Linked DNA regions of Homo sapiens: region 2 is linked to region 1. The links come from fine-mapping of genetic effects on gene expression. A gene starts in region 1. The other region holds a variant in brackets. All regions are shown on one strand. Distances are between the middles of the regions. Region 1 holds the start of INTU (inturned planar cell polarity protein). Region 2 overlaps INTU (inturned planar cell polarity protein).

The links. PIP is the estimated chance that this variant, and not a neighbour inherited with it, causes the effect. A credible set is the group of variants that fine-mapping cannot tell apart.
Region 2: its variant is the best candidate, but not a certain one, in a credible set for the expression of INTU in esophagus mucosa (GTEx, PIP 0.50).

The regions. Positions count from the first base shown.
Region 1 is chr4:127,630,618-127,636,008 of GRCh38, reverse strand. INTU (inturned planar cell polarity protein) reads right to left here and starts at 3,052. Exons shown (of 16, transcript NM_015693.4): 1 at 2,829-3,052. The coding sequence starts at 2,974. RefSeq lists enhancers at 3,023-3,202, 2,865-3,404.
Region 2 is chr4:127,708,532-127,713,922 of GRCh38, reverse strand. INTU (inturned planar cell polarity protein) reads right to left here. Exons shown (of 16, transcript NM_015693.4): 13 at 5,255-5,352; 14 at 2,821-3,010. Among named protein-coding and RNA genes, the nearest start is that of SLC25A31, 19 kb to the left of the region's middle. RefSeq lists a silencer at 4,675-4,969 and an enhancer at 4,417-5,391. The variant T/C (reference allele first, on the strand shown) is at 3,055.

The sequences.
Region 1 (5,391 bases):
GTATGAGCCACCATACCTAGCCGAGAGATGAACTATTAATGGGGGCAACAACATGGATGAATCTCAAAGTAATTATGCTGAATAAAAGAAGGCAGACAAAAAAGAACATTCATACTGCACAATTCCATCTTTATGAAACTTTAGAAACTACAAACTCCTATAGAGTGACAAAAAGCAGATAAATGGTTATCAGGAGAGGCATAAATGGACTTAAGTAGGTACATGGGGAGACTCTTAGGCGAGATGGATATGTTCATTTTCTTGACAGACGTATACATGTTAAAACATCAAATTGTACATTAAAAATATGTGCAGTTTTTTGTATATAAATTATCCTTCAATGAAGCTATTTTTAAAGTCCCAGAAAAAAATTTAAAGGACATACCTCCCTTCTCCAGCCAATCCTTGTGTTTTAGGTGGAAGTTCCTTAGCTTTAACAGCTAATATCTCATTTAAAATGATTCCTGTTTCTCTCCATCAGCCAGTTTTAAAACTGATGTAACAACAACAAAAAATTCACTTTGAAAAATTAAAAATCCAAGTCACAACATTGACAAACTCTCTGTAACATGAACTAGGCATATTAGCTGGTAACTTGGCATTGTTGCAGGTGAATGTGTGATTTCTGTTATCTTAATGCTAAAACTAGCTAATGGCTCCCTCAACCCAACCAACCCACCAGTATTATCTCGGAAGCCTCCCAGGGTATGTGCCCATGTGTCAACTTAAGACATACTGCAGCAATATAAACTCTTATTCTCTAACAAACCTAAAACAAACCTATTAAAAGAACTCTACCAGAATTTACCATAATGTAATTTTATCTCCAAGATGATAAACTTTTAAATTCTATATTGACAATCACATACAGCTCAGGTACAAAGCATGTATGAAACAGTAACTTCTAAAAAGAACACGCAGTTAACTAAAACCTTGAAAATTCAGGATACTTTATGTGAGTCAATATGCAGTACAACTTCCTTAGTAAGCTTCACGTAGTCCATGAAATACAATAGGAAATTCATGTCTTTGCTTTAATGAGAAAGACTAAGGTTGGCATTCCTGTGCCTTTGATTAAAGAGTGGTTCTGTACAAGTTGGGAAGGCCACTGTTTGTAATGATGACTGCAGCTTAGGGAAGTAAACATCTACCATAAGGGAAGAACCGAACATAAGCCTTCCTGGTAAGTTCAGCAAATTAACCCTCATGTCCTACAAATCAAGAAGGGACAGACTTAAAATTTGAAACTTGGTAGGACTTGAAATACAGACCAGCAAAACATCTTATGATAGGGATTTTCTATACTTTTATTATTAGGAGGATAAAGACACTAGAACATGTGGCGTGATTAGTGACATGTGAAAAGCTTAATGATCATTTTTTAAAAGCTAAAATATAACATACATACATGTATTTTGAATCATGAAATACTTTTATTCTTTTAAGTGACAAGTTCTCCTATCACAAGGTCCTCAGATTGGTCATTTCCTAGGAAACAAAGTTCACTATTTTAATCCCATCAAAGTCATGGTGGCCCATTAGGTATCAGGCGTCTTGAATTCTCACACTGACAACACTCAGCTGTGCAACTATACATGAATCATAGATTCTTTCTGGGCTAAAAGTATGCGACTCTAAAATGTGGAGAAGCCAAGAGTTTGAGTCTTACACTGTCTATGGCTTCACATACCAAGACCAAATAAGGTTCTATGTAATTCATATTTCCTTCCAGCAGCCTTGTGTAATAATCATGAATTTTAAAATTATTTTTTTAATGCCTACAGCAGATTACAAAAAAATACGATATTTTAAAATTTGTTTAAGTCTTCAAGAATGTATTAAACAGGTTTCCCCACCATACTTTTAAAGGCAATGATAAAAATCTTTTACATACTGATAGGTAAAAACAATTGCCAAATAACAGTTGCTCCTACATACATATAAATGATTTGTAACTGTTGTTCCTAAATACACATAAAATGTCATCCTAAAACTGACCAGGTATGGTTGTCCATTACTGGGTTAGTTGACATTTTGGCACCAAAACTTTTTCACGATTAGTCATTCTCTTCAAGCTACTGCTAGTTGACTTTTCTAAAGTTCTTAATCCATAGCAGTAAGGGGTAGATTTTTCTTAAAAATGAAGTAGCACTGAATACTGTGAATCAAAATAACCTTTTCATGGCATTATTAAGAAAGTGAAACCTTTAGGTATCTGTATTTTTAAAAATTAAATTATGACGTAAAATGGAAAACAAGAAAATCATGGAGATGCATAGGAAAATACAGCAGAAATATCCAGAAGTGCTGAGAGGTTGTCCTTGATGGTGAGACTATGGGTGGGCGTTCCTTCTGTTATATAGCTATTCATTTCCATAACAGAAAAAATCTACATAAATTTAACAACTGCCTTATAAAACGCGTAGGGTGTCTCTCCACTCCAAATACTAAAGAGATTAAGCCACAAAGGTCACACCAAAGAATCAAGACACTGCGATCGAAACAGAGTTTTTTGAACGCTGTTACAGATATATCCTCCTATGGCCTAGACAGAGCCCATGACCAAAAAGAGGAGATTCTCCTCATCTAAGAATCATTGAAAAAACAAAACAAAACAAACAAAAAACAACCTACAGTAGCAAAGAATGGCATCGTCATTTCTGCTCACACCACCATACAATGGAACGTGGTGCAATTAAATCCCACTTATTATAGAACCCCAAATACTCGATTCCAACCACGCCAACACCCTTGCAGTTCCCCCAGCCCACGTGTATATTCTCTGGATTGATGGGATGGGATTAATTGTCCCTCTTTGAAAACCTTACTCATAATCGCTACTCGCTGAGGAATATGAACCCGAGTCGCTGACCCGATCTTCAAAATCATAGTCCTCATCTTCTTCTTGTGAAGAGGGGTCTCCAGGGAGCTCGTCTGAGCTCGGACGCGAATCGCACGAAGCCACAGAGGCCATCGTCAGGAATGCAATAGCTACGAGTGGAGTAATTCAAATCTCGCAGCTATAGCTTGCTAAGGCCGCCATGTTGCCTCTGCTTGGGAAGGGGCAGAGGCCATGTGACCACCAATCCTTAGCTGCAATTGGTGGCAGGTCGCGTTGCCAGGGAGACGGAGAAGCTTCCCAGAAGAAACAGGGAGAACAGAAAGCAGCCAATGGGCTGAAACTTCCAGGAGGGCTTCTCAGTTGGAAGGATAGAAATAGCTAAAACTTCACCGCTTACGCTCTCCGGAACGCAATTCCTTAGAGCAGCATAACCTGTTAAAACAGGCGGAGATGCACTGGGCTTCTCACCTTTTTCTTCCAGTGCTGGATATCCAGTTTGCTCTTTGTCCTGTGTTTCTAATGCCTAACAGCTGTCGGTCAGCCTGGATTTCCTTCGAGGTGAAGGAAACCGCACTTTACCTTTCCTTAGGACCTCATCCGTGCAAGTAATGGACGCTTTTAAGCAACGCGATCTAGGTGTTAATGTAAATACGCTCCATTGTTTTATGGGTTTCATATTGTTTCGCAATTGCAAACATTTTCACGGTTATCCCAAGTGGGTATTGTAGAGTGCCACAAATGAGTGGCAATCCTGTGGAATCAACTTCATGTTCATTTTCTAACTCAAAATTTTATAATCTAATTAAGTGTTCTCATTATTAAAGTTGGAAGTGTAAACAGGTAAAATCTACCTGTTATTTATGAATACCTATATCAAGTATTTTTTAAGTACAAAAATAACAGCTAGCATTGATTGAGAGTCAGCCTTGGCTCTGCTCACTTTATTCATATACAATGCTGAGCATTCACATACTATGAAGTAAATATTTTCTCTATATTAAATAAGGAAACTAAGCTTTAGAGAAGTTATGCATCTTACTAATGGTTACATGGCTAGCAGTCAACAAAGTCAACCAAGAAATGAACCTAAGTCAATAACCATTACATGAAATTTCCTCCCTCAGAACCCAGTAATTCAACTATTAGATATCTACTCTGAGAAAGGATGCAAATTTATAAAATTTGTAAAAGTGAAAAGCTGAAAGCAATCTTAAAATGTCAAATAATGGGGGAAAAGTTAAATATATATAAAATATGATGATTATGATTTTAACTAGAATGTGTTCAAAGAGTAAAGCATGGGGGAAATGTTCATGTTGCAGCGTGTAAAAAAAGGATATAATGTTATTTTATGATCTAAAAGGCTGGGTGCTGGGGATTCTCTAATGGGCAATTATAACATAGTGATAAGTATTACAATAAATACAAGGTTCTAATGGAATATCCAGAAAAAACCAAAGTAGTATACGTGGGGCCATGACAAATTTCTTAGAGGAAGTATTAATTTATATTGTTATTATGGCATGGTTCCAACAGAGAAAGAGTAATGGGAGATGAGTCATCACATGGCCGGTATGGGTATATGCATGGAGAACTCAAAGGAACCTGAATTGTAGCTGTTGCAGGGGCAGAAAAACTCTACCTCCATCTTCTTAGGGTCCCAGCTGGGCCTGAGAATTAAACTTACCTAAAATAGATTAACAAAAGAAAAGCAACTGGAACTTGTTATACAGATGTTGAGGCCCTGCTCCACATCAACAGGATCAGAATCTCCAGTGGAGGGGCCTGGAAATCTCTATTTCAAACAAGTGCCCCCTGTGATTCAGCAAACTTGGGGAACTGCCCTAAATTTTCTCTCAGTTCTGTGCTTCATCTATACAGGCCAACTGGCCATTCCCTGAATAGGCTGGAACCCACTCCCACCTCGCAAATTTGAGCCTGGCAGACAGACCTCTCTCCTTGCTCTAGAATCCAAGTTTTACATGGCAGGGGAGCCCTCATAAAGAAATGAAGACCCAAAGAAGCAGTTAGAGTCAGTTAACTTATATACTGGATTGGACAAAGAATAGTTAGTTGTGAAGAAGCAACTAAACTAAATTGGGAAGCTTAAAAGATAAGTTATTTTAACAAGGTCTGTACAGAATTCTCTTGGTTTCACTTCTATGCCCTTGAGAATAAGAATGTTACATTTTTCTAGTATAGGGAGGGTGTCTTTCACATGGGAGCTTCATCTGTTGCTTTTAAGAAGCAGCACAAAGGCACTTGCTGTTTTTCAAGTGTATTAAACTTAAATGGCCAGGATAGTATATTTTACCTTCCTCACAGCCAAACAAGCTGCAGTATGCAGCTTATACTTTTAAGCTGAAGTTTAGTTGTATTTACATTAACTGTACATTACATGTACAAATATACATTAAACTATGTACATTTGAATTTGTATATTACATGTACAAATGTACATTAAACTATATACATTTGAATTTCCTAGGTTTTATGGTTTTGTTTTAATTTCTAAATGTGTTTTTATAGTGTTATAACAGCGATTACAT
Region 2 (5,391 bases), 78 kb before region 1:
GGTATTGTTAGTATTAACTGGTATTACCAGTGTTACTTTAAAATGTTTTCACAGAGTAATCTGAATTGGCTGATCCAAATACTTCAGTGCCTGCAATGACATTCTTCTTATCTGCAGGAAAATTTCTACTCTTCCTCAAAACTTAAATACCATATCCTAAAGGAGACTTCATGGATAAAGTGTCCCTTGACTTTTCTAGGGAACACTTTGTTCACAGGCCTATATTATTAGTATGTATATTATATTATATTAGCAGTTTATAGATCTGTCTTCCACAGTGGAAGATAGAAAATTATAAGCTTTTTTCCCCAGGGAAGAGACAATATGCAATCTTCTTTGTGTGTTTTAAAACCAGCAGTGCCTGGTTCATAGTAGGTGCTTAATAAATGTGTTCTAAATGAACAGATAATTCTGTAATAAATTGAAAAAATATATATTTAAAACAGTATTTTGTCTTCCTTTGACCCATAATCTCTAAATTTCATACTGATTAAAGCATTAGCAAAACAATGACTCATTTGGACTATAAAGGCTTCTTATAAGTTTCAGGGCAAACAGTGGAGTGATCCTTGATCCTTTTCTTTCCTTCATAGCTTTTATCTAATCCATCAACAGATCTTTTTGGTTTGCCCTCCAAAATATATCCACAGTCCAGAAGCCATAATCATTTCTTGCTTTGAGAATTTTGAAAGCCTCCTAACTGGTCCCTGCCTCCACCCTTGCTATTCTGTTTCCTGTTCTACCCACAGTAGCCTGAGTGATCCTTTAAAAAAATTACGGATCATGTCCCTTATTTGGGCAGAACTGTTCAAGAATGTATCATCTCTTTCAGAACAAAGCCCAAAGTCCTTATCATAGTCTATCCGGCCATGCATAAGCTGGCCCTGCTACCTTTGTGATCTCTTCTTCCACTTTCTTCTCACTCAGTTTGCTCCAGTACTCTCCCAGCCCCTAGGGGATGGTTTCAGGATGAAACTGTTCCACCTCAGATCATCAGGCATTAGAGTCTCATAAGAAGTGGGCAACCTAGATCCCTTGCATGGACAGTTCACAGTAGGGTTTGCACTCCTATGAGAACCTAATGCCGCAGCTGACCTGACAGGAGGCAGACCTCAGGCGGTAATGCTCTGCAGCTTTGCATTTGCTGTTCCCCTTGCTGGAAGCTCTGTCCCCAGAGAGCCACATGGCTTGCTCCCTCACTTCATTCAGGTCTCTGTTCAAGTATCACTTGACATGATCAGAGAGACCTTTCAAAATAGTCACTCCCACCTCTAATCCTTACCATGTTTTATTATTTTGCTTGACACTGATTCTTCTCAGCATACTATTTTCTAATTCTTCTCAGCATACTAATTTCTAATTAGAAAATAGGCTTCGTGAAGGAAGGGACTTTGTTTTGTCCACTGTTGTATCCCACGTTCCTAGAATAGTGTCTGGTGCAGAGTAGGTACCTCAATGTTTAAATAAGATGGGGAAAACTAATTTATATTACTAAATATTATCAAATAAGTAAATGAAATATTCCTTTATAACATTTATCAGTTAATGTTAAAAAGGGAAATAGGAGCATAAGAACCCAAAGCATACAGGAATATAGGGTCAAACACAGTATTTTTACAGAATAACAATTTCTGAGGACTCAAAAAAAAATCCTACAAGACACAGAATTTTACTGCTGAATGAACCTGGAGAGATGATGTAATTCAGCCCACTTGCTTCATAGCTAAGGAAATAGGAGGTGAGGCTCAGTCCAGGATTCCTTATTCCTTGTCCAATGTTCTTCCACTTTTAAACCCAAGTTCTTCACAAATTTGGCATCCCTAACACATGTATTGCTATATACATTACAACCATTTTCAGAGAGGTTTTTTGGCTGTATAACGTCACAAGTAAACCTCTGTAAGTTTTATCCTTTTCAAGAAATCAACACCTATCTTTTCCTGCCATTTAAATAATCTGATATTGTAATTGTACACAGCATTATTATTTATTCAACAGATAACAACATTCAATGAAACTTCATCCTGGATAGAAAAGCAAGCAAGCAATCAACCAACCAAATGCCAAAAAATTTGCATTAGTCTTGTGTCTATAGCTGTACCTTAACCCAGCAGTCCCCAACCTTTCTGGCATTGGAGACCAATTTCTGGGGGAGGGATGGTTTCAAGATGAAACTGTTCTACCTCAGATCATCAGGCATTAGATTCTCATAAGAAGTGCACAGCCTAGATCCCTCACATGCACAGTTCACAATAATAGGGTTTGCACTCGTATGTGCTGCTGATTTGATAGGAAGCAGAGCTCAGGCAGTAAGGCTCCCTGGCCCGCCACTCACCTCCTGCTGTGCAGCCTGGTTCCTAATAGGCCACAGAGAGCTACTGGTATGTGGCCCAGGGGGGTTGGGGACCCCTGCCTTAATCCATTATATTCCAAAATCCCTATACTATTGGCTAAATACTCAAAGAATTATCAGAGTTATTTTAGGAACCAATTGGTAGATATTATTACTCAAGTAATGGTTGAGTCACAGATATCAAATATGGAAGGTTAATTTACATTACAAACGACTGTATTTTGCTTTGCTGTAGAAAACACAGGTCTACCATATCCTGAAAAGTAACCCAAGACATCAGATTCAGTATAAAATAAAACCTTGAAGTACTGTGAGTATAATTGTTTTGGCACCCACGTTAGATTAAGTGACTATTTAAAAAAACTTAATGAAATGAAAACAATGCTGGGCATATTGATTAGATAACAGAATGCTTAGAGATCTGGAAATTAAACTGGCAGAAAACTGTATTTATAGCAGTGCCCTACCTCTTCCACCAATGTCTGTTGGAAAACTGCACGAATGGAAAGACAACACTGATGGAAATTCTTTATTAGCTGAGGGTGGATAGAGCCACTTAGCTGTGCCACCTCTTCAAGGGTAGGAGTAATAAAGATTCCTTGCACTGTTTCTAAGGCAACGTAGTGGAAAAGTGTGTTCTCAGGACCAGATGTCAGTCTTAAAAAGAAAAAAAATCAAAGAGAAGAAAAAAGAAATTTTAG[T/C]AAATTTTAAAATATTGGTTCATTTTGAATTTAGTAGACTTCTTATAAGCTTTTATCTACAATATAATATTAGTAGTATAATTAGGGAAGGGAAACTGGGCTAAACATTTAATTCCCTCTTCATCCGTAACTGAAGTACAAGCTAGGGTTATTAATTCCCTTAATGGAGGCAAATACTACATGTTATGCAAGGATAAGTAAACCTCAATTCATTTGCAAGTAACTTAATCATTCCTTTGCTAAACAACCCAAATTGGCTAACTGTCTCTTTTTCCATGGTTGGTATTAAATAATTCAGCTCGTGTCTGGCCCAGATAGCTATAAGCCATAAACAAGATATCAGTCTAGGGTAGACCACATATAAAAATACCTTCCAACAAATTAAATACATTTAAGTTAGTAGCATTAAAGTATTTTACCATGATAGTCAAACTGATGTTCCTCAAGAACTACTGGAATGCAGAATGGGTAGGACTTAGTTACTGAATGAAATGTTTTATATATTATTTTCAATATATTATATATATTGTATTTTACAAAGATAGGTGCATAAAAGGTTAGGATAATATATTACATCCTGTTTTATATCATGCTTTTAAAATGAACTACATCATATAAAAACATCTTTGCATGTCAATAATGAGAATAAACACACATCTTTGGCACCTTTTAAAATAGGAGAGCCTATGATTTACACCACATGTGAATTTATGTTTAAACCATTGAACTTGAAAAAAGAGTCTCCTTTTACTAGAGACAATGCCAACACAACATACATATTTTTAAAATTCTGATATGGAGTTAATAAAATTTCAGAGCAATAGTTTTTGTTAAATGGAAGACTAGAGTTTTGTGAAGGTACTTTTGGGTTCCATAAAAGGTTTGGTTCCAATTTATTTGTCTTAAAATCATGTTTAACTATCAAAAAATTAAACATTCATATTTGGAGGCATTAAATACTAAAATTTAACACATCAGATTTCTAATGTATTATTTTATGCAGACAAGTTACTTTGTTTTTGTCTTGACTTGAGAAAAAAAGAATTTTCTAACAACTTTGTAACACATATATTTGAACTTACTGTAAAGTGTTTCAGTGATTAAGAATGTGGTAGCTCTGTACTGTGTGTGTGTGTGTGTGTGTGTGTGTGTGTGTGAATTCTATTAGTACGTGTCTAGTTGTTCAAATAAAAGTAGGCAATTGAGTTTATTACACCAGTTGATCCCACACATGATGTCATAATTAAATACCTGCCAAGGCACAGGCAGACCTGCGTGTCACCACATAAGTGCACAAGAAGTGAATATATAACATTTCATATTATAATAATTACAGACAGTTTAAGTTGCTAAACATTCTCTCCTCACTCAGTTTCTTTTACCTCAGAATTCCCTACTCAATGAACGTTTGAAATTATACCTATTTTCTAAAGAGAGTGTTATGGGACAAGTTCCTTGGGACCCAAACTCTGAGAGTGAGATATGCCGGGAGGAAACTTATTAGGAAGTACTCTTGGGAAAAACAGCTGTAGGGGTGTAGTGACTGAGCAGGATTGAGCAGAGGGAGAAGATGAACTGTGCTGCAGCGGCAACAAGTCTCAGCCGATACCACTGTGTACTCTGAAGCTTGGCTGGCCTTTCAGAGTTGTCTTCAATTTAGGCAAGGGGCCAAGCCTTTGTACTCACTTATTTATTAGTCATTAGAAATGGGCTCCTCCCAGGGAGGAATGTAACCTTAGCTGAGTCAACAAGTTTCCGTGTAGGACACGGCTAGGGGAGTGACAAGGCTAGGGGAGCTGTGAGGCATTAGCAGCCACCATTCTCAAGTGTTGGAAAGGAATACCCTGAGCTAAGGTGTAACTGGACAGCACACCACTGCATCCACCAAACACTCTAAAAAATAGTAAACTCTAATTTAAAAATTATATTAAATATACAAAAGGGAGGTTACCTGTGGAGAGATAAAGGGAGACTTTCACATTTTGAAATATTACTTTGTGTGTTTTTCTCTTTCATAATACTAATATGGTCATTTTCCTAAATGTGTAATGAAATATTAAAGAAATACCACAGATATTACCTTTAATATGTAAGATATATCAGAATTACATTTGTTGAGTAAAATACATGTTATAAAATTGTACTTTCTCACTGTAAAACTTCCTGAGTTTAAGTGAACAAGAATAAGAAAGTTTCTTACTTCACTGTGTTATATATTTCTAATTCTTTTTCTGGAAGGTCCTTTTTCAAGTTTCCCAAATGAAATGGATTTGGAAGAGTAGACTTCTTTTTAGTGACCTGAAAAATATAGTTAAGTAGATCAGTTTATATCTAAGA